Linked DNA regions of Homo sapiens: all the other regions are linked to region 2. Evidence: fine-mapped expression QTL. A gene starts in region 2. Each other region holds a variant in brackets. All regions are shown on one strand. Distances are from middle to middle. Region 1 overlaps C1QTNF1 (C1q and TNF related 1). Region 2 holds the start of ENGASE (endo-beta-N-acetylglucosaminidase). Region 3 overlaps C1QTNF1 (C1q and TNF related 1).

Evidence for each region. PIP is the estimated chance that this variant, and not a neighbour inherited with it, causes the effect. A credible set is the group of variants that fine-mapping cannot tell apart.
Region 1: its variant is the best candidate, but not a certain one, in a credible set for the expression of ENGASE in fetal neocortex (Walker 2019, PIP 0.80).
Region 3: its variant is the best candidate, but not a certain one, in a credible set for the expression of ENGASE in monocytes after LPS (Quach 2016, PIP 0.74).

The regions. Positions count from the first base shown.
Region 1 is chr17:79,045,849-79,053,049 of GRCh38, forward strand. It overlaps C1QTNF1 (C1q and TNF related 1), which reads left to right. Exons shown (of 4, transcript NM_030968.5): 3 at 707-846; 4 at 1,690-3,940. The coding sequence ends at 2,240. Among named protein-coding and RNA genes, the nearest start is that of C1QTNF1-AS1, 22 kb to the left of the region's middle. RefSeq lists an enhancer at 806-2,005. The variant G/A (reference allele first, on the strand shown) is at 3,471.
Region 2 is chr17:79,071,254-79,078,454 of GRCh38, forward strand. It overlaps ENGASE (endo-beta-N-acetylglucosaminidase), which reads left to right and starts at 3,571. Exons shown (of 14, transcript NM_001042573.3): 1 at 3,571-3,837; 2 at 6,177-6,244; 3 at 6,410-6,611. The coding sequence starts at 3,692. RefSeq lists a silencer at 3,433-3,972.
Region 3 is chr17:79,037,684-79,044,884 of GRCh38, forward strand. It overlaps C1QTNF1 (C1q and TNF related 1), which reads left to right. Exons shown (of 4, transcript NM_030968.5): 2 at 6,272-6,440. The coding sequence starts at 6,286. Among named protein-coding and RNA genes, the nearest start is that of C1QTNF1-AS1, 14 kb to the left of the region's middle. RefSeq lists an enhancer at 6,282-6,782. The variant C/T (reference allele first, on the strand shown) is at 4,566.

The DNA.
Region 1 (7,201 bases), 25 kb before region 2:
CTTATGGGTAGCTGAACTTAGGGCACAGAGATCCGTTTCCTGGATAGTCTGGGGTGCAGAAGTGGGAGCAGCATTAGATGAGGAGCTGGCCCATCCAGGGGGACTTTGCTGCCCCCGTGGGTCTGCGCAGCTCTACAGCCTGGGCAAGAAGAGCCACAAGCCAGAGCACATGTGATGCCATGAGGGGCCGCGAGGTGGCAGCCAGGAGCCGCCGCCGTCCATCCTGCCTGCGGGCTTGTCCTTCCAATCAGGTTGGAAACATAAGAGTCTCTCCAGCGGCTACAGCTGAGGGGAATCCTAAAGATCCAGTTGAACCTTCTTATTTGCAGACGAGTCAGCTTCATATGTTATTTTCTAGCATCACGGATATACGATAGGGAGTCCCGGCATTGTCTTGTGTCACCCAAAGACCCTCTCTTAGAAGTGTGGATTTCTCCCGAGCAGCCCCCATCTTGCGTGGCACTCAATTGATCGCTGCGTGTGTTTCCAGGACTGTCATTGCCTTTAACAGAGGGCAGGGGGCTCGTTCGGTAGTGAGGATCCCAGAGTGGGCCGTGAGCCCACCAGCGTGAACACAGAGCCTTGTGGGTCCAGGTGAGAGAGTGAGAAGGCAGGTCAGGCATGCCAGAACCACTGGCAGCAGGAGAGAGCAGCGTTTCCAGGCCTGAGAGTGGCTGACTTTCACTGTGATTCTTTATTCCCTCAGGGCTGAAGAACAACATGAAAAATACAGGCCCAGTCAGGACCAGGGGCTCCCTGCTTCCCGGTGCTTGCGCTGCTGTGACCCCGGTACCTCCATGTACCCGGCGACCGCCGTGCCCCAGATCAACATCACTATCTTGAAAGGTCAGATGGCTGCAAAGACAAGCACGGGGTGGCCGGGCTGCTCTGTGCTGATCCGGAGGAAGGGATGGAGTCGTTAGGGTGGGGCTAGGCGAGAGCAGAATGGCTCCCTCGGGACAGGGAGCAGAGGCAGGCAGGCTGTCATCTAGAGGGGAAGGCACAGGAAATTCTGATTTTGAGGCTCTGGCCCCTCTCCAAGAGGAGGGGTTGGAAAGGGGCCCACAGGACCAAGAGCAGGAGAGGGAGCCCAGAGGCTACTCGGGGTCTCGTCCCTCCAGTTGTATGTGGACGCCAGGCTTCTAGGCCCTTTGCTTTGGGGCTTGGTCCCCCAGCCTGCTTTCTGAAATGCCACCTGCTCGCTCCGGTCCTGCACACGGCAGATAACCCTGCACAGCCCCGTGAAATCGAACTGGAAACACTTGCAGCCTAGATCCCCAGCTGGCCCCGACATCTGGAGTTCATTTGCTCAGAGCGAGCCGTCGGTCTGGCCGCAGAGCCCATTGCTTTTGGACGAACCCGTATGTTCCATTTTCTTTTTTTTCTTTTCTTTTTTTTTTTTTTTACCAGGGCTTTCCAGAAGGAAAAAAAAATTATTGCTTCTGGGCGAAAATAGAACCATCCTTGAGGTTGAGTCTGTTTGCTTGGCCATTTTGGGAATCACAATACCTCTGTGCCAGGCTGGGACGCCGCCCGTGGCAGGGGGCTGGGGGCAGGAGTGAAGCTTCTGCCAGGTCAGGGCTGTGAGGACGAATCAGGACAGCGCCAGGGACCGGAGAGTGAGCAGCCAAGGCTCAGGACACTACCGGATTGCTCCATTAACAGCACGCGTTTTCCCATCCCTTTTAGGGGAGAAGGGTGACCGCGGAGATCGAGGCCTCCAAGGGAAATATGGCAAAACAGGCTCAGCAGGGGCCAGGGGCCACACTGGACCCAAAGGGCAGAAGGGCTCCATGGGGGCCCCTGGGGAGCGGTGCAAGAGCCACTACGCCGCCTTTTCGGTGGGCCGGAAGAAGCCCATGCACAGCAACCACTACTACCAGACGGTGATCTTCGACACGGAGTTCGTGAACCTCTACGACCACTTCAACATGTTCACCGGCAAGTTCTACTGCTACGTGCCCGGCCTCTACTTCTTCAGCCTCAACGTGCACACCTGGAACCAGAAGGAGACCTACCTGCACATCATGAAGAACGAGGAGGAGGTGGTGATCTTGTTCGCGCAGGTGGGCGACCGCAGCATCATGCAAAGCCAGAGCCTGATGCTGGAGCTGCGAGAGCAGGACCAGGTGTGGGTACGCCTCTACAAGGGCGAACGTGAGAACGCCATCTTCAGCGAGGAGCTGGACACCTACATCACCTTCAGTGGCTACCTGGTCAAGCACGCCACCGAGCCCTAGCTGGCCGGCCACCTCCTTTCCTCTCGCCACCTTCCACCCCTGCGCTGTGCTGACCCCACCGCCTCTTCCCCGATCCCTGGACTCCGACTCCCTGGCTTTGGCATTCAGTGAGACGCCCTGCACACACAGAAAGCCAAAGCGATCGGTGCTCCCAGATCCCGCAGCCTCTGGAGAGAGCTGACGGCAGATGAAATCACCAGGGCGGGGCACCCGCGAGAACCCTCTGGGACCTTCCGCGGCCCTCTCTGCACACATCCTCAAGTGACCCCGCACGGCGAGACGCGGGTGGCGGCAGGGCGTCCCAGGGTGCGGCACCGCGGCTCCAGTCCTTGGAAATAATTAGGCAAATTCTAAAGGTCTCAAAAGGAGCAAAGTAAACCGTGGAGGACAAAGAAAAGGGTTGTTATTTTTGTCTTTCCAGCCAGCCTGCTGGCTCCCAAGAGAGAGGCCTTTTCAGTTGAGACTCTGCTTAAGAGAAGATCCAAAGTTAAAGCTCTGGGGTCAGGGGAGGGGCCGGGGGCAGGAAACTACCTCTGGCTTAATTCTTTTAAGCCACGTAGGAACTTTCTTGAGGGATAGGTGGACCCTGACATCCCTGTGGCCTTGCCCAAGGGCTCTGCTGGTCTTTCTGAGTCACAGCTGCGAGGTGATGGGGGCTGGGGCCCCAGGCGTCAGCCTCCCAGAGGGACAGCTGAGCCCCCTGCCTTGGCTCCAGGTTGGTAGAAGCAGCCGAAGGGCTCCTGACAGTGGCCAGGGACCCCTGGGTCCCCCAGGCCTGCAGATGTTTCTATGAGGGGCAGAGCTCCTGGTACATCCATGTGTGGCTCTGCTCCACCCCTGTGCCACCCCAGAGCCCTGGGGGGTGGTCTCCATGCCTGCCACCCTGGCATCGGCTTTCTGTGCCGCCTCCCACACAAATCAGCCCCAGAAGGCCCCGGGGCCTTGGCTTCTGTTTTTTATAAAACACCTCAAGCAGCACTGCAGTCTCCCATCTCCTCGTGGGCTAAGCATCACCGCTTCCACGTGTGTTGTGTTGGTTGGCAGCAAGGCTGATCCAGACCCCTTCTGCCCCCACTGCCCTCATCCAGGCCTCTGACCAGTAGCCTGAGAGGGGCTTTTTCTAGGCTTCAGAGCAGGGGAGAGCTGGAAGGGGCTAGAAAGCTCCCGCTTGTCTGTTTCTCAGGCTCCTGTGAGCCTCAGTCCTGAGACCAGAGTCAAGAGGAAGTACAC[G/A]TCCCAATCACCCGTGTCAGGATTCACTCTCAGGAGCTGGGTGGCAGGAGAGGCAATAGCCCCTGTGGCAATTGCAGGACCAGCTGGAGCAGGGTTGCGGTGTCTCCACGGTGCTCTCGCCCTGCCCATGGCCACCCCAGACTCTGATCTCCAGGAACCCCATAGCCCCTCTCCACCTCACCCCATGTTGATGCCCAGGGTCACTCTTGCTACCCGCTGGGCCCCCAAACCCCCGCTGCCTCTCTTCCTTCCCCCCATCCCCCACCTGGTTTTGACTAATCCTGCTTCCCTCTCTGGGCCTGGCTGCCGGGATCTGGGGTCCCTAAGTCCCTCTCTTTAAAGAACTTCTGCGGGTCAGACTCTGAAGCCGAGTTGCTGTGGGCGTGCCCGGAAGCAGAGCGCCACACTCGCTGCTTAAGCTCCCCCAGCTCTTTCCAGAAAACATTAAACTCAGAATTGTGTTTTCAGCATCCTGCCTCGTCAGTTTGCTCATTAAACTGAATCCTTTTCGTCTTCTCCTCTCCACCCAAGGCCCACTCCTGCCTGGGAGGCCCTCAGCTTCATACCTGGGGACATTGGTACCCAGCAGGTGCATGCTGGACCCTGAGTTGCCTCGCTCCTCCAGGGGGTGCAGCCTCCCATGGGTGGGGCAGCGACAGCGTGTCTCAGCTGCAGCTGAACGTGTGCCTGAGTCGGGCGCCTGGGGCCTGGGTGGGTCTGGGGACTTGTGAGAGGTGGGTGGGAGGCAGGGGCTTGATCTCCTGAGCAGGACCGCACTGTCCCCCGGGAGGGAGAGAAACTGTGGAGGTAGCAGCTTGGCCATGGCTCTGCAGCCTGGACACTATTCCTTTCCTAGGGCTGCCGTGGAAACTGGGGTTGGGGCGTGGGTGGCATAAGCCTCTAGCGGAGGGTCCTTCCTGCCCCTTCCAGCTATTGGTAGCCCCAGGCACTCCTTGGCTTGCGGCTGCATCTCCTCAGGTTCTGCTTCCGTCTTCATGTGGCCTTCCCCTCCGTGTGTCTCAAATCTTCCTCTCCCTTCCCTTACTATAACACCTGTTGCTGGATTTAGAGAATCAGGTAAATATTTAGGGCCCACTGTAAATCCAGGATGGTCTTCTCTCTAGATCCTAACTTAATTACGTCTGCAAAGACTATTTCCAAATAAGGTGACATTCACAGATAGCAGAGGTGAGGACTTGGACATATCTTTTTTTGGGGGATACAGTTCAACCTCTACCATGGCTTGCAGCTTGAATACACCCATCAGCAGCCCCCTCTGTTCTCCAGTGGTGCAGAGCAGATGTTCCTTCTTCTCTCCATCGCTTGCCAACTGGGTTAACAGCCAGGCACTGCATCCAGCTGCCAGCGGGGAGCACAGAAGCTACCTTGCTCTCTCTGGTGCCAGCAGGCTGCAAACAGCTGATCTCCTTCCTCTGCCCGCTCCTGGGGTGAGGCCATGTGTTCATGCTTGGCCTTGTGCTAGAGCCAGACTGGATCAAGGGGACCCTGCAATCCTGCTCTGTACGGGAGAAGGAGCAGGCTCCTACCTCCGCGGAGTTCAGGCCACTCAGCAGAGGATGTGCTTCCCAGGCAGTGGGGAGCAAGGGCTAAGTGCCCTTCCCAGAGGTGCCTGGAGGGAACCAGCCAGCTTCATACAGGTGCCCAATGACAACCCTCTCTGGAGACGGAGTCACGTGGACCATATAATACCTGTTTCTCTGCTGGCCAAATTCCCATGGGAAAAGAGGCAGGGTCTGCTCCAGTCCGCTCCATGCTCCTTTTAACATCCCTCTATCTTTGGGGTTTCCCCACCCCCAATATTTTCAGGCTGGCATTTATGCTCCACCCATTCTTCCTCCAAATATTTCCCTTGCTCCTGCTTTGTGGCAGATCGTGTGCTAGGCACTGGAGGCATAAGGACAGATAAGATATGGTCCTTGCCTTCCTGAGGACTTTCCCAGGGTTTCGACTGCCGTCTGACAGAGGTCAGCCTTCTCAGAAGAGCTGCACGCTTGGTACCAAGTGATCTGCTCCACCTGATGCCTCCCCAAGCAGTTGATCTTGACGGGATCCTCTCCCGGTTTCCTGTCCCAAGCTGGTGAGAAATTGGCTAGCCATCTCACTAAAGGGTCTAGAAAACTCAGTTGCAATACAAATATCAGTGTTTTAGCAAAAGGACTTAGTAATGGCTGATGACTCAGCCCAACGAAATAACTGCCTATGTTAGGACTTTCAGGAGCTTTTGTAGCCAGGGATGGGGATGAGGAGGTCATGGCCCACACTAGTCCTCAATGATAATTTTCTGTAAGGTCCACTATGGGAACGCAGTGGCGTGATGGCAAGCTGATTTTATTGGGCCATAATGACTAGCATAAGATGAGACATTGTTGCCCAGATTATTAAAAAAAAATAGAATGTAACAGAAAATAATAAATAATGCAAGATATCGATGTCCCAACATGCAAAAGAATGGAGTTGGGCCCCTACCTCACACCATATACGAAAATTAGGCCTTGGATCAAAGGCCTAAATATTAGAGCCAAAACTACAAAATTCTTAGAAGAAAGCCCAGGCATACATCTTCATGACCTTGGATTAGGTGATGATTTCTTAGGTATGATATCAAAGGTACAAGCAACAAAAGAAAAAAATAGATCAACTGCACATCATCAAACTTGTAAATTTCTGTGTTTCAAAGGACACCATCAAGTAAGTGAAAAGACAACTCACAGAATGGGAGAAAATATTTGCCATCATATATCTGATAAGGGACTTATATCTAGAATATATAAAGAACTCTTGCAACTCAATAATAAAAAGACAAATAATCTAATTAAAAATGGGCAAAGCAGCCCACACTTCTCCAGAGGAGATATACAAGTAACCAATACACACATGAACAGGTGTAATCATCAGAGAAATGCAAGTCAAAACCACAGTGAGACACAACTCTACAACCACCAATACACACATGAACAGGTGTATCATCAGGGAAACGCAAATCAAAACCACAGTGAGACAACTCTACAACCAATGGGAAGGCTGTTGTCAAGAAGACAGATGATAACATGTGTTGCTGAGGATATGGAGCTGCTGGAACTGCTGTCAGGAATACAAAATGGTGAGTCCCCTTTAGAAGACAGCCTGGCAGTTCCTCAAAATGTTAAGCATAGAGCTACAGCTGACCCAGCCATAACACTTCTAGGTATATACCCAAAAGACATGAAAATATATGTCTATGAAAAGCTTATAGATAGATGTTCATAGCAGCATTATTAGTAATAACAAAGAAGCAGGTACAACCCAAGTGCCCACTCAGCTGATGAACAGGTAAACAAATGCAGTGTGTCTATACAAAGCAGGCAGATCACAAGGTCAGGAGTTCGAGACCAGCCTGGCCAACATGGTGAAGCCCTGTTTCTACTAAAAAAATACAAAAATTAGCCAGGCGTAGTGGTGTGTGCCTGTAATCCCAGCTACTTGGGAGTCTGAGGCAGGAGAATTGCTTGAACCTGGGAGGCAGAGGTTGCAGTGAGCGGAGATCGTGCCACTGCATTCCAGAGCCTGGGTGACAGAGCAAGACTCACTCCATCTCAAAAAAAAAAAAAAAAAAAAAAAAAGGAATGAAGTGCTATTACCTACTACAACATTGGTAAACCTCAGAAACATTATCAAAAGGGAAAGAAGCCAGACAGAAAAGGCCATACGTTGCATGATTCCATTTATATGAA
Region 2 (7,201 bases):
AGTGATCTGCCCACCTCTACCTCCCAAAGTGCTAGGATTACAGGCATGAGCCACCGTGCCTGGCCCAGGCTAATTTTTCATATTTTTTTGGAGAGATGGGGTTTCTCCATGTTGCCCAGGCTGGTTTCCAAGCCTGCTCAAGCAATCAGTCCTCCTGCCTTGGCCTCCCAAAGTGATGAGATTACAGGCGTGAGCCACTGCGTCCAGCCTTGAAAGTTTTACATTGTGCTTTTTGTTTTTCCTCCAGCTGGTCTGAGACATGTATCTGAATGAAGGGACAGTGAGATTTATTGCAGAAGGAATGCAGTGACAACGAACAAGGTAAGAAGATTTTGAATGACAAAAAAAGATACCAGCCTTGCAAGCAGGCTGCTGTTTTGAGAGGTTTGTCTAAATTCCAGGATTTATCCCACTCATCTTAGTTAGATTTAGCTACTGTAAAAACACCAACAGAGTATTGGCTTAAATAAGACAGAAGGGTATTTCTGTCATTTAAGAGTCTGGGCTGGCCGGGAGCAGTGGCTCATGCCTGCAATTCCAGCATTTTGGGAGGCTGAGGTGGGCAGATCAGCCTGATGACAGAGCAAGACTCCATCTCAAAGAAAAAAAAAAAAAATTAGCCTGGCGTGGTGGTGGGCGCCTGTACTCCCAGCTATTCAGGAGACTGAGGTGGGAGTTCGAGACTAGCCTGGCCAACATGGTGAAACCCTGTCTCCACCGAAAATACAAAAAATTACCAGGCGTGATGGTGGGCGCCTGTAATCCCAGCTACTTGGGAGGCTGAGGCAGGAGAATCGCTTGAACCCGGGAGCTGGAGGTTGCAGTTAGTGTGCGGAGATCACGCCACTGAGCTCCAGCCTGGATGAGAGTGAGACTCTGTCTCAAAAAAAAAAAAAGTCCAGACATAAGCAGTCCAGGGCAACACTAGTCTTGCTGTTGGGGACCTAGGCCCCTCCCAGCCCTTCCACAAGTGGCTTTCATCTCATGGTCTCAGATGGTTGCTGCAGTTCCTGCCATCACATCCTTGCACCCAGCTGGCGACCAAGAGAAGCCAGGAAGGAAAGGTGGAGGGCAATGCCCCCTTTGTTTTGCAGGCACAACCAGAATTGCACTTCTCACTTTGTTTCTTGTTTCATAAACCACAGCTTACTTGTAAGTAAGTACACGTGGAAGGTCTAAGTTCTGCCTCTGGGGAATGCTGTCTTCATCTGGGCTACCATGTAGTCAGCAAAAACGTGGGGCTTCCGTTCCTAAAGGACAGGCTCGGAAGGAATATTGGGGACAATTAGTTCCTGCCACACTCTTCAGCATATCAGCAACCAAGCCCGGGGACCAGGTGGTGTCCACTCACCTGATTCTCATTTCCGGCTCCCCCGGAGGCCATGAAGGAGGAGGCAGAGGAAGGCAGAGCAAGCAGGTGTGACTCTAGGTCCCCACTCCGGGCGCTCTGGGCATGGCGAGGGGGGGTGCAGAGGCAAGTGCATGCACTGCGTCACGACCTGCAACAGGAAGCTGATGGGACAGCATGGTCAGGCAGGGAGACCCGAGGCTCAGCTGTCCCAAACCAACCAGTACTGGTGTGGGCAGAGCCCAGGACAGCCAAGAGCCTGCAGGGAGGTGTCAGAGGGGCCCCTGTAACAGGGCAGGGTGGCTCTGCCGAGGCTGTAGTTCAGATTCACAGGTAGGGATGCCAGATTTAGCAAATGCATAGACAGCATCCTAGTTCAGTTTGAATTTTAGATAAATATGCAATAACTTTTTAATATAAGCTTGTCCTATGTCCCAGGCATCATTTATTTGGAATTCAAATTTAACTGATTGCTCTGTATGTTATCTGAAAACACCAGAAGGTTAGGGTTTTAGAGGGCCCACTCAGGCCTCAAACGGATCCAGAGCCCCAGTATGAGCCAATGTGAGCTCAAGGCAGACAGGGCCCCTCCAGGCTTGGCCTGACATCCAGAGAGACCACGAGCCACAGGGGCTAACAAGAGGCCACAAGGCCTAAGTCCTTTCTGTCCTCAGGGGCGTGCAAGGCTGCCTTCACTTTCTTGCTCTTCTAGACCAGGTGCCTACTCTTTGGAAAGGAGAGAAGAAAAGGGAGGTTTGGGCATATTTTCTCCCAGAGACTGAGCATTACCCAAAGGCTGTTCAAAGTATCCCTTAGAACTGTGTTCTAACCTGGGTAGGATGAAAGTTTATCTATTTTTATTGCTAAGCTGCAGGTGAGGGCTTGGGAACACCTGGTTACATGCACCCCAGATCAAGACTGTCCACGTCCGGTGCACCCCTGAACACAGCAGGAGGGAACTTGGGGATCCACTGCCCTCGCTCACTGTAAGCTTCCCAGGACTGAAGCCCCAAAGAGGAGCCCTCTGCCTTCTCTGTCCTCCCCATGGGTCAGCGTGTCCTGCTTCTGAGTGGCCCGTCCTTCCTGCCTAACTGGCTGGCCTGCACCATGGCCCATATTCAACAACCTTAGTCATAGTTCCCACCATTGGCGTTTATGGAAGCTTGGAGCCTCATAAAGTTCAAAGTCTGCAACAATAATAAAGGCCCAGTCAACTTGGCTTGGGCGGCAGCTGCAGCCCAGCACTGGAAGCTCCTAGCTGTGGAGGGGCGTTGGGGCCTGGAGGGAGGAGAGCCTTGGTTTGCCCTGTGGGGCCCAGCCTTGAGTTCTGGCTTCTCAGGGCTCTGTTCTATCATGTTTCCTGTGAACTCCTTTTGTGCCTAAGACGCTGGGCAGTGCCACTCTTGCAGAGGTGCCACTCCAGGCCCTGCACGCTTAGGGGTAGAGCAACTACTACTGTTGGGCACAGGCGTGGGGCTGTAGAAAGAAATCCGTGTTTCACTGGAAAACTATGCATCCTACATAGGACACCAGCTTCCACATGGCCCGATACTAACCTACTAACCTTTCATCTTTTTTTTTTTTTTTTTGAGACGGAGTCTCCCTCTGTCGCCCAGGCTGGAGTGCAATGGCACCGTCTCGGCTCATTGCAGCCTCTGCCTCCCGGGTTCCAGCGATTCTCCAGTCTCAGCCTCTCAGGTAGCTGGGATTACAGGCATGCACCACCACGCCCGGCTAATTTTTGTATTTTAAGTAGAGACGGGGTTTCACCATGTTGGCCAGGGTAGTCTCGAACTCCTGACTTCAGGTGATCCGCCCGCCTCGGCCTCCCAAAGTGCTGGAATCGCAGACGTGAGTCACCGCGCCCGGTCTGAAAATTATCTTTTAATAGGGGTTAGCTGCATGAGTTAAAATCTCATTGCCACCATTTGCTGACTTTGTGCCCTCTGGGAGATTGCTTAATCTCTCTGGGATAAACCTCGGTTTGCTTGACAAAGGAAGCTGGTGAGGCTAAAGAGAGAACTCTAAGATTGGGGCGTTCCGAAGCCTTCTAGAGCCTTCTAGCACCCTGGACTCATAGCCAATGATGGGCAACAACAAGAACGACGACGAACCCTGGGCTCGGAACTCGCCCAGGCCCCGCCCCTCACAGCCCCGCCCCGTCCTCGGCCCCGCCCCCGGCCTGTCGCCTCAACAAAGTCCCCGCCGCGCGGCCGCTGGCCGGGAGTCAGCTCGGAGTCCCGTCCCAGCGCGGCGTCAGCGCTGCGCACTTCCCATTGGCCGAGCGCGGCGCGGGGGCGGGCCCGGGCCTGCGATTGCCTCTCGGCGTGCGCGGACAGTGTCATGGAGGCCGCGGCGGTGACGGTCACCCGGTCGGCTACACGGCGGCGGCGGCGGCAGCTGCAGGGGCTGGCGGCCCCGGAGGCGGGGACGCAGGAGGAGCAGGAGGATCAGGAGCCGCGGCCGCGGCGGCGGCGGCCGGGAAGGAGGTGGGGCTGCGGGGCCCGCGTGAACCCCGATCCGCGGGGCTGAGAGTCCGTGGCCCCGGGGCCCGAGGTTTCCCGGCACGGGCGCGCCGAGGGGCGGGGGGCCGGCGCCTGTGTCCGCTCCGTGCACAGTAAGGGACAGAGGGTGGCAGCGCCCCTCCGCCCCGGTCCGCCCCGCCGTCCTCGCGCCACTGCCGGGCAGCGGCCTCCGGCCCCCGTGCGTGACCCCTGCCTATCTCAGAAATACGGGTGCAAACCCGAGTGGCCGCGGGGCCCAGCGGGAATCCCGACGCCCCGGCCAGACCCCTGCTTCCCACGTCGCTGGTCTATGCGGAAGATCCCGGCGGCGGTGCTCATGCCTGGCTCAGTGGATGCCGGCTGGTGGAAGGGGTGGCCTTCTGTAGGGGTGACACTAGAACTGAGTCTTTGGGGAGGAGGAAGCCTTCAGTAGGTGGAGAATAGGGAGTAGGGTATCCAACTGGCGGGGAACAGAAAGGGCCAAAGCACAGAGACAGAAAGGGACGAACATGCCCCTCTGGGCTGGGCTTCCTTCCTTTGGGGGGCACTTGCCCACCCGGTAAACTCCCCCTCAGTAGGTTGCAGGGGGAGAAGTTAGGAGCACAGACATGGCTTCCGGAAACAGCAGCCGTAGCTTTGTTTCTAAACCCAAAGCAGTGAGACTGCTGAGCATTTCAGACCTCATGAAGATGGGATGAAGGCTGGCTGCTGGGAAAGATATTTTTGGACAGGAGGAATGTGGAGATGGCTCTTTCCCTCCTAGTGGAGGAATGACAGGTGACAAAGGTGACCTGGTGTGGGATTGTTCTGAGAAGGTCTGGGAGGGGGTGGCTGAAGTATAATAAGGACATCAACGAGGAAGGGGGCTTTGGAAAAGGAAGGTGGAGAGGAACAACTGCGGCATCTCTGCTTGAATCCGTCCCCGACCCCTGCAGTTCTCAGGGTCTCCCAATGTCATTCTGGAGGCCCTGGGTCAGTGTTTGGTGATGGCAGATGCTACAGAGGACTCTTTGCAACAGGCCTCTGAATGGCAGTGGAGTGATGGCAGATGACAACTCAGTGAACAAAGAAGTGGCCTTGGGCGTTGGTAGATTTAGGGAATCTCAACGTTGGTGCCATGGCCTCTAAATAGCCACTGCGGTGTCTTCTTACTGCTCCTAAAATAATAATGATTTTTTAGGCCAGGCATGGTGGCTTATGCCTGTAATCTCAGCACTTGGGAGGCTGAGGCGTGTGATCACCTGAGTTCGGGAGTTTGAGACCAGCCTGGCCAACATGGTGAAACTCAGTCTCTACTAAAAGTACAAAATTAGTCAGGCGTGGTGGCAGATGCCTGTAATCCCAGCTACTTGGGAGGCTGAGGCAGGAGACTCACTTGAACCCAGGAACTGGAGGTTGCAGTGAGCTGAGATTTCACCACCTTACTCCAGCCTGGGCGACAGAGCGAGACTCTGTCTCAATTAATCAATCAATTTTTAAAAGAAAGTGGTTTGAGATGTATTTAGGAGCTTTCCATGTTAATGTACCGAAGGAACGAAGGAACTCTTTCTCCCTGTAACATACATCCATGAACAGCGCGGAAGGCACTTAGGGAAGTGTGGCCTATAGAGGAAGCCTGGTCTCTGCTCTCTTAGGACCTGAAACTTTCTGGTGCTTTGGGTATTTGGATATTGCCCCTTGGCCATAGAAAATCCTGGGGACCCTGTGAAGTATTTATGTCTGGTCTTTGTGGTATTGGGGTGGCTGCTTTAGAGGGTAAGGTTTATTCTATTTATTTATTTTTTTGAGATGGAGTCTCGTTCTGTTGCCCAAGTTGGAGTGTAGTGGCACAGTCCCGGCTCACTGCAACCTTCGCCTCCCAGGTTCAAGTGATTCTCCCTGCCTCAGCCTCCCAAGGTGCTGGGATTACAGGCGTGTGCCACCATGCCCAGCTAATTTTTGTATTAGTAGAGATGGGGTTTTGCCATGTTGGCCAGGCTGGTCTTTAACTCCTGACCTCAGGTGATTCGCCTGCCTTGGCTTCCCAAAGTGTTGGGATTACAGGCGTGAACCACTGCGTCTGGCCTAGGGTAAGGTTTATTCTTAGGAGTAATCATTGGTACGTGTGTCCATGTGGAAGCCAAGCCCTGGTTGCTAATATAGGTAAAACCTTAGGATTATCACAGGGCACTTCCTTGCTTTATACAATGTTTCTATAGTTAATATTAAACAACATAAGGCAGAGAATATCTCTCTGTGTTTAGATGAAACTGGTCCATTTGCTTCTAAGTGTTCTTACCTATTTATGTTTTTATTTATAAATGTACAACTCCCTCTTTGCTTAGCATCAAAGATGAAGAAGAAGAGACAGTCTTTCGAGAGGTGGTCAGTTTTTCCCCGGACCCCCTGCCAGGTGAGGAGACAGAGGCTCTGAATACCGATCCACCTTCACACCTGGGGCTTTGGGGCAGGTCAGCCCCTGCCCCCTCTCATGTTCCTTCTCTGTTATTGTTAAAATGTTTCGATTAATCCTATAATAGTTTCCATTAATTGCTCAATGTTTCTGTCCTCGGACCAGTTAGATATTATGACAAGGACACCACCAAACCAATCAGCTTTTACTTGTCTTCGCTGGAGGAGCTCTTGGCGTGGAAGCCCCGCTTGGAGGATGGCTTTAATGTGGCCCTGGAGCCCCTGGCGTGTCGCCAGCCCCCTCTGAGCAGCCAGAGGCCCCGGACTTTGTTGTGTCATGACATGATGGGCGGGTACCTGGATGACAGGTGAGGACCTGGCCTTACATTGATGTTGCTTACATTGTTCTCCTTTGCTGGGGTGGGGGCTGGAGGGGCGGGAGAGAGTGCCATGTGTAGAAAGAGCACTGGGCGGGGAGTCAGGAGACGGGCATTGGAGGGATGGCACTAACTGCGAGAAGAAGGCAGGCCCCAGTGTTTCATCTGTAAAAAGGGAAGACTGGGCTGGGCTTGGTGGCTCACACCTATAATCCCAGCACTTTGGGAGGTCAAGGCAGGTGGGTCACCTGACCTCAGGAGTTTGAGACCAGCCTGGCCAACATGGCGAAACTCTGCCCCTACTAAAAATAGAAAAATTAGCCAGGCATGGTGGCAGGTGCCTGTAATCCCAGCTACTTAGGGGGCTAATGCAGGAGAATCGCTTGAACCAGGGAGGCAGAGATTGCAGTGAGCCAAGATTGCACTACTGCACTCCAGCCTGGGCAACAGAGTGAGACTCTGTCTCAAAAAAATAAAAAATAAAAAAAGGAAGGTTGGATTAGGCAGTGTCTTATGTCCCTTTCAGCTCTAGAATCATTTGACTCCTTGAACCTCCTCAACTTGAAGGCTGGTAGTAGATT
Region 3 (7,201 bases), 34 kb before region 2:
ATTACCACAGGGTCTCACTCTGTCACCCAGGCTAGAGTGCAGTGGTGCGATCATGGCTTACTGCAGCCTTGACTTCCTGGACTCAGGTGATCCTCCTACCTCAGTCTCTTGAGCAGCTGCTGGGACTACAGGCGAACACCACCATGCCTGGCTAATTTTTGTGTTTTTGGTAGAGATGGGGCTTCACCATGTTGTCCAGGATGGTCTTGAATTCCTAGGCTCAAGCAATCTACCCACCTTGGCCTCCCAAAGTGCTGGGATGACAGGTGTGAGCCACCACAAGCAAACAAGGGATACAATTTTTTTCTTTTTCTTTTTTTTTTTGAGACGGAGTCTCACTCTGTTGCTCAGGCTGGAGTGCAGTGGCGCGATCTTGGCTCACCACAACCTCTGCCTCCTGAGTTCAAGCAATTCTCCTGCCTCAGCCTCCCGAGTAGCTGGGACTACAGGTGCACCCCACCACGCCCAGCTAATTTTTGTATTTTTAGTAGAGATGGGGTTTCACCATGTTGGCCAGGCTGGTCTTGAACTCCTGACCTCAGGTGATCCACCTGCCTTGGCCTCCCAAAGTGTTGGGATTACAGGCGTGAGCCACCGCGCCCGGCCGGGATACAAATTATTCACAAGGATGTGTCCTCAGGCTTCCTGTCCTCCTCTACGTCCTGCGTGTAGCCTGGTTTCTCTTTTCTGGCCTCCCTCCTCCTGTAAAGGGGGATGTGTTCTTGTTGGGGAGAAGGTCAGGTGTAGGTGGATGATGTGGGGTTGAGGAAGGGACGCTGAAGAGCGGCTAGTCCTCAGGGACATGGAGGGAAGGAAAATGGTCGCCGAATTACCATGGAAATTGGCTCATATTTGCAGGATTTGGGAAAGGCAAGTAAAGAGCTTGAGTCATGCTGGAACTGTCTTCAGTTGCCTTGCCTGCGATGAGGCCTGGAGACTGGGCCACGTGGATCTGGATTCACACAGGTTTCACGTCACTGGCCAAGATGTGCTCAGGGCACTTCCCTGGAACTGCCTAACACATTCTTCCAGATAACCTTGCTGGGACACAGCCTCCCTACTGTAGGGGGATTTTTGCTGGAAATCACTAACAGTGATCTGGAGCCAAGTTTGGTTAGATGTTGGGCAATACTGTCTTTGCCCAAAAGTGACTAAAATGATCATCATGTTATGACGCTGGCTTTGCTGTGGGATTTGGTAAAATGCTTCTTAAGATCTTTTCAGGAAGGAAAGATTTCAACCTGGGTTTGCTCTGACTCCGAACAGCAGGCTTTTGAGGAGAGCCACCACCGCCAAAGTGGCCTTGTCCCTACCAGCCTGAGCCTGGGGCTCTCTGCTGGGGTTTCCCAGCCCCACCCCACCCCAGTGACAGCATCGTTCCTAACCCAGCTGCATCCTGGACCCCGTCTCTTCTGACCAAGGTGTGGAAAATCCCTTTGCTAGACTAGAAAGAGATAGACCAACATAAAAACAAATGCTGGTGCTTAGCTAGGGGCAATTTTGCCCCTGAGGAACAGGCATATTACCATGTTTGGAGACATTTTTTGTTGTCATAACTAGAGGTAGTGGTGCTAATGGCATCTGGTGGGGACAGTCCAGGGTTACTGCTAAGCATCCTACAGCACACAGGCTAGCCCCCCACCACAGGGGATTATCTAGGCCCAAACCTCAATGGTGCCAGGGTTGGCTGGCGCGGTGGCAAACGCCCGTAATCCCAGCACTTTGGGAGGCCGAGGCAGATGGATCACCTGAGGTCAGGAGTAGTTCAAGACCAGCCTGGCCAACATGGCGAAACCCTGTCTCTACTAAAAATACAAAAATTAGCCGGGTGTGGAGGCACACGCATATAATCTCAGTTACTAGGGAGACTGAGGCAGGAGAATAACTTGAACCTGGGAGGCGGAGGTTGCAGTGAGCCAAGATCGCGCCACTTCACTCCAGCCTGGGTGACAGAGCGAGACTCTGTCTCAAAATAAAATAAAACAAAAAAACCCAGCAATCCTTCAATGGTGCCAGGGTTGAGAAACCACAGAGTAGAATAATCCAAGGTAGCTTTTTAATGCGTTTTGTAGTTACTTTCCAACCTCTCTTAAATAAATATGTGTGTGTGTGTGTATATATATATATATGTAAATATGTATATATGTATATATATGTAAACATGTGTATGTGTATATATAAAATTTGGGATTCAGGAAAAAAATATTTAAAGAAAGGAAAATCTCTTTTCCTTTTAACTGGTACAAGTTTGCCACTTAAAAGGAAAAAACAGAATAATTATTAAGGCACCAAGGAGAAACAGAGGAAATACAGAAATGGAGAAATAAACAAATTTAGAGAATTCAGTCTGACAAATATTTGCTGAGCACCAGTGATTCAGGGTGCTGCAGGATGCTTGGCTAGGGGACGTCCCAGCCCTGGAGGAGGTCACCCACGGTCTGCTGAGTAGACTCTCATAGGCTAGACAAACTCTCTGCAGTAGGAGACAATAGGAAAAATAAAATTATGGCGCCCACCTATAATCCCAGTACTTTGGGAGGCCAAGGCAGGTGAATTGCTTGAGCTCAGGAGTTTGAGACGAGCCGGGGAAACACGGTGAAACCGTGTCTTTACGAAAAAACAACAAAAAAATTTAGCTGGGCGTGGTGGCGCATGCCTGTAGTCCCAGCTGCTTGAGAGGTTGAGGTGGGCAGATGGCCTGAGCCGGGAGGGTTGAGGCTACAGGGAGGCAGAGTGAGACCCTGTATCAAAAAAGAAAACTAAGACCGAGGATGGAGAATTTTTCCCAGTTGAGGGGCCTGGGAAGGCTTCAGGAAGACTATGAGACCTTGAGTTGGGTGTTGAAGACAAGGCGGGCAGGATTTTATTGTCATCTGTTGTCAGCCTGTCTGAGTCCAAATGCAGCCCCCCTGCTCAAAAATCAGTCTTGGCCCGGCGTGGAGGATCACGCCTGTAATCCCAGCACTTTGGGAGGCTGAGGTGGGCAGATCACTTGAGCCCGGGAGTTTGAGACCAGCCTGGGCAACATGGTGAAAATTTGTCTCTACAAAAAAAAAAAAAAAAAAAAAAAATTAGCTGGGTGTGGTAGTGCATACCTGCAGTCCCTTCTACTTGTGAGGCTGAGGTGGGAGGATGGCTCAAGTCCAGGAGGCAGAGGCTGCAGTGAGCCGAGATTGCACCACTGCACTCACTCACAGAGTGAGATCCTGTCAAAAAAAAAAATCAGAATTTTAGGCTAATTAGCTTCTCCAAGTCTCTGTTTTCTCATTTACATATCTGCTACAGTCATGAATGTATATTGTCTCCCTAGAGGATTGTGGGGCCATCCGTGATGGGATAAAAATTATTAATGAGGAAATGTTCTCAAACCTAACTAGACGGATAGCTGGAGAGAGAACTTAGATGTGTATTTTATAAATTACCATGTGCACATACACCCTTTTTTTGGCAAGTGGTGGGAGGTATCAGAGATTCTGGGTGGGGGCTGTGGCCTAAGCAGCTCCTTGGTCATTGGGACGGTCTCTGGGCCCTGACGCATGGGAGGGACAGCTGGCTGGTAGGACACTTGGAGGTGGGGGCTCCAGCTAAGCCACTGCAGAGATGGGGCGTGGGCCATGCAAGGTGGTGAAGACTGGGTGTAGGTATGTGTGACAGGGGAGGAGAGAGGTTCGGGGGGGCCAGCCTTGCTCTCCTCACTGTCACCTCGGAGGCTCTATCGGGAGAGCCCTGGACTCCAGATCTTCCCCTGCAATGTTGACTTGGCGTGAGGGCTCTGCGGGGAGCCCTTCAGACTTCACTCAAGAGCCCACTAAAGTCCTGGGCCGTGGCTCACGCCTGGAATCCCAGCACCTCGGGAGGCCGAGGTGGGTGGATCACTTGAGGTCAGAAGTTCCAGACCAGCCTGGCCAACGTGGTGAAACCCCGTCTCTACTAAAAATACAAAAATTAGCTGGGCGTGGTGGCGCATGCTTGTAATCCCAGCTGCTTGGGAGGCTGAGGCAGGAGAATCACTTGAACCTAGGAGGCGGAGTGAGCCGAGATCACACTGCTGCACTCCAGCCTGGGTGACAGAGCAAGACTCCATCTCAAAAAAAAAAAAAAAAAGCCCGCTACAGACATCCCCCGCAGAGGCTCCAAAGCCCCCGAGCGACGGTGTGTGTGGAAGAAATTCCCGGCTTCCCAAGATGAGTAAGACGTCGCGGTCATCTTGGTGTGTAATATGGGCAGAGAAAGAAATCTGTCAGGATTTTAACTTTCCTTAGACATAAGAGGAGTTAGAGGAGAAAGAGTCTGGCCCAGGGCCTTTGGAGATGAGCCCTTGCTTTCACTGTTTGCCTCTCAAGAAAGAGCTGGAGTCCACGCCGGCCTGGCAGCCAGGAGTGAGGGACGCTTCTCACCCACCTTCTCACTGGGCGGCTGTGTGTTGAATGAGGTGTTCCCACGGGGCCTGCGACATTTCGAGTTTTACATTTTGGTGAACAAAGAGGGGTTAGAGTTGACCACAGTCGCTGTGCCCCTCGGTGGGGAGGTTTTCGGCCCACCTGAAACGGCTGGGCCTGCGACTC[C/T]TGATGCCAGATTCCTGGGCGAGGGGAGCAAGCCGCTCACAGGGTGGCAGGTGGGCGTTCGCCTAATGTGGGCCCAAGTGCCGCCCCTCGCGGGCTCCCTGGACTCCCCACCTCCGTGAGCACCCCTTTCTAGAAGGACTGTCCCAATACTGGATGGAGGGGGTCCTGCCCCAAGCTTTTGCCAAAAGCTCTGGGAGTGAGACGTGGGGTTGGCTTCCTGGAAGGATGACTGCTCTGTGGGGCTGGGCTTGGCACATCCCTAAAGTAGATGCCAAGGACACCTGCTGATGCGCCGCCTGGTGGCCAGAAAGCAGCTTGCAGCCACCTTCCTACCCACCTACCCACCGGTGAAGGACCTGGTCATTGAGCCAGCTTTGCTTTGAGTTAAGGGATGATGATCATTCAAAGCTTGCTTGGGATTTTTCTTACTGTCCTAAGAGGGGTGGTATACAATTGTCTGTGGGGCCAGCGGCTGATGGACTCTCCTTCCCGAGAGGCTGGGTGGGCAGAGACAGCACCTTGCTCAGCAACCCCTCAACACCAGCCTGACTGGCTGAGGCTCTGGGGGCAGAGTGTGTGCGCACATGTGAAGGTGTGTGTACATGTGAGCGCATGTGTGCATGAGTGGATGTGCATGCATGTGAATGTGTTGAGAGTATGCGGGCGTGCACGTGAGTGTGCATGTGATGTGGGTATATGTGTGCATGTTAATGTGTGCACGTGTGTTGAAAGTGTGCATGTGTGGATTGCATGTATGCGAATGTGCATGTGTGTGGATTGCATGTATATGAATGTGTGTGCATGTGTGGGTTGCATGTGTGTGTGGGTTGCATGTGTGTATGTGTGTGCATGTGTGCATGGATTGCATGTATGTGAATGTGTGTGCATGTTGGATTGCATGTGAGTGCATGTGATGGTATATGTGTGTGAGTGCATGTAAAAGTGTGCATGTGTGTGGATTGCATGTGTGTGTGAATCTGTGTGCATGTGATATGGGTATATGTATGCATGTGTGTGCATGTGTGTTGAGAGTGTGCATGTGATTTGGGTATGTGTGCATGTGAGTTGTGCATGTGTGTTGAGTGCATGTGAGCATGTGGATTGCATGTGTGAGTGCATGTGTGTGGACTGTGTATGTGCATGTATGTGCATGTGAGTGTGAGTGTATGTGTGTTGACTGTGTGCATGTGAGCGTGTGGATTCCATGTGTGTTAAGAGTGTGCATATGGGTGCGTGGATTGCATGAGTGTGCATGTGATGTGGGTATATGTATGCATGTGTGTAGGTTTCATTGTTGAGACTGTGCATGTGTATTGTGTGTACATGTGTGTGGATTACATGTGTGTGGATTGCATGTGTGTTGGGTGCATGTGAATGTGTGGGTTGCATGTGAGTGTATGTGACTGTGTGTGCATGTGTGGATTGCATGTGTGTTGAGTGTGTGCATGTGTGGGGGTTGCATGTATGTGAATGTGTGTGCATGTGCGTGTGTGCACGTGAGTGCGTCGTGAGTGCGTGTATGCATGCATGGGTGTGTGAGAGTGATTGTCCTCCCAGAAGCTGTGTAACTGCAGCATTTCCCAGTGGCGTGAGGCTGGGGAAGCACCTCCGATTTCCAGGCTGTTTCTCTCCCCAATTTTCAGGCTGTTTCTCTGTGCAGCTCCTTCCTAACTCGGTGCCTTCCCTGTGTGTTTCTTTCCCACCAGGGCCCGGCAGGAAGATGGGCTCCCGTGGACAGGGACTCTTGCTGGCGTACTGCCTGCTCCTTGCCTTTGCCTCTGGCCTGGTCCTGAGTCGTGTGCCCCATGTCCAGGGGGAACAGCAGGAGTGGGAGGGGACTGAGGAGCTGCCGTCGCCTCCGGACCATGCCGAGAGGTGAGGGGCCACGAGGGTGTAATAGCAGGAGCTCTGGCTCTGGCCAGGCTGAGCCTGGGCCTTGGGGCCCCTGGGGGAGCTAGTTCACTGTGAGATGTGAAGGCAAGAAAGCTGAAGCTGAGCCGTGGCCCTGCTGGAGGCTGGTCCTGCAGGACAGACGAGCGATTCCTCCTTTCAGTGGCTTGGGCACCTCACCTGAAACTGCGGACAGTGATCCAGCCTCACCACGAGCCTAAAGGAGTGGGGTCTGCAAGTGGCTTTGCAGCTGCCTCCTTAAGAGCAGACCAAGCTCCCAACCTGCCCTCCAGTTTGTCTTTCCATTCTCACTTTGTCCGCTGAGAATATCTGCTGGGGACCTAGGCACCACTTGGAGGCAGGGAGAAGTGGAGCATGGCCTTAGGAGAGATGCTGGACCAAGAGCTGGTGTCCATGGCCCACGCGTCTTATCACACTGCAGGACAGGAGAGGACAGCGGAGACTGGGTGGGCCAAGTGTCGGCTTCCCTTGAAAGGTTGTGAAGGACTCTGGATGGCCTTCGTGTCTACGACCTGCAATGACAGAGAGACTCCAGCCGACCTGGGACATTTCCTAGGGAAGCCGAGTGCTTCATCCAACTGCCATGTACCCAGAGTGAGGTCCTGGAGACCCGGCGACAGCTCAAGCCTGGCTTGGAGTCTCTTCATTATTTTGAGCGTTGGGCTGACTTGATACTTGAGGCTTCAGACTAACTTCAGTGTACGATGGGATTGGACAGGATTTGA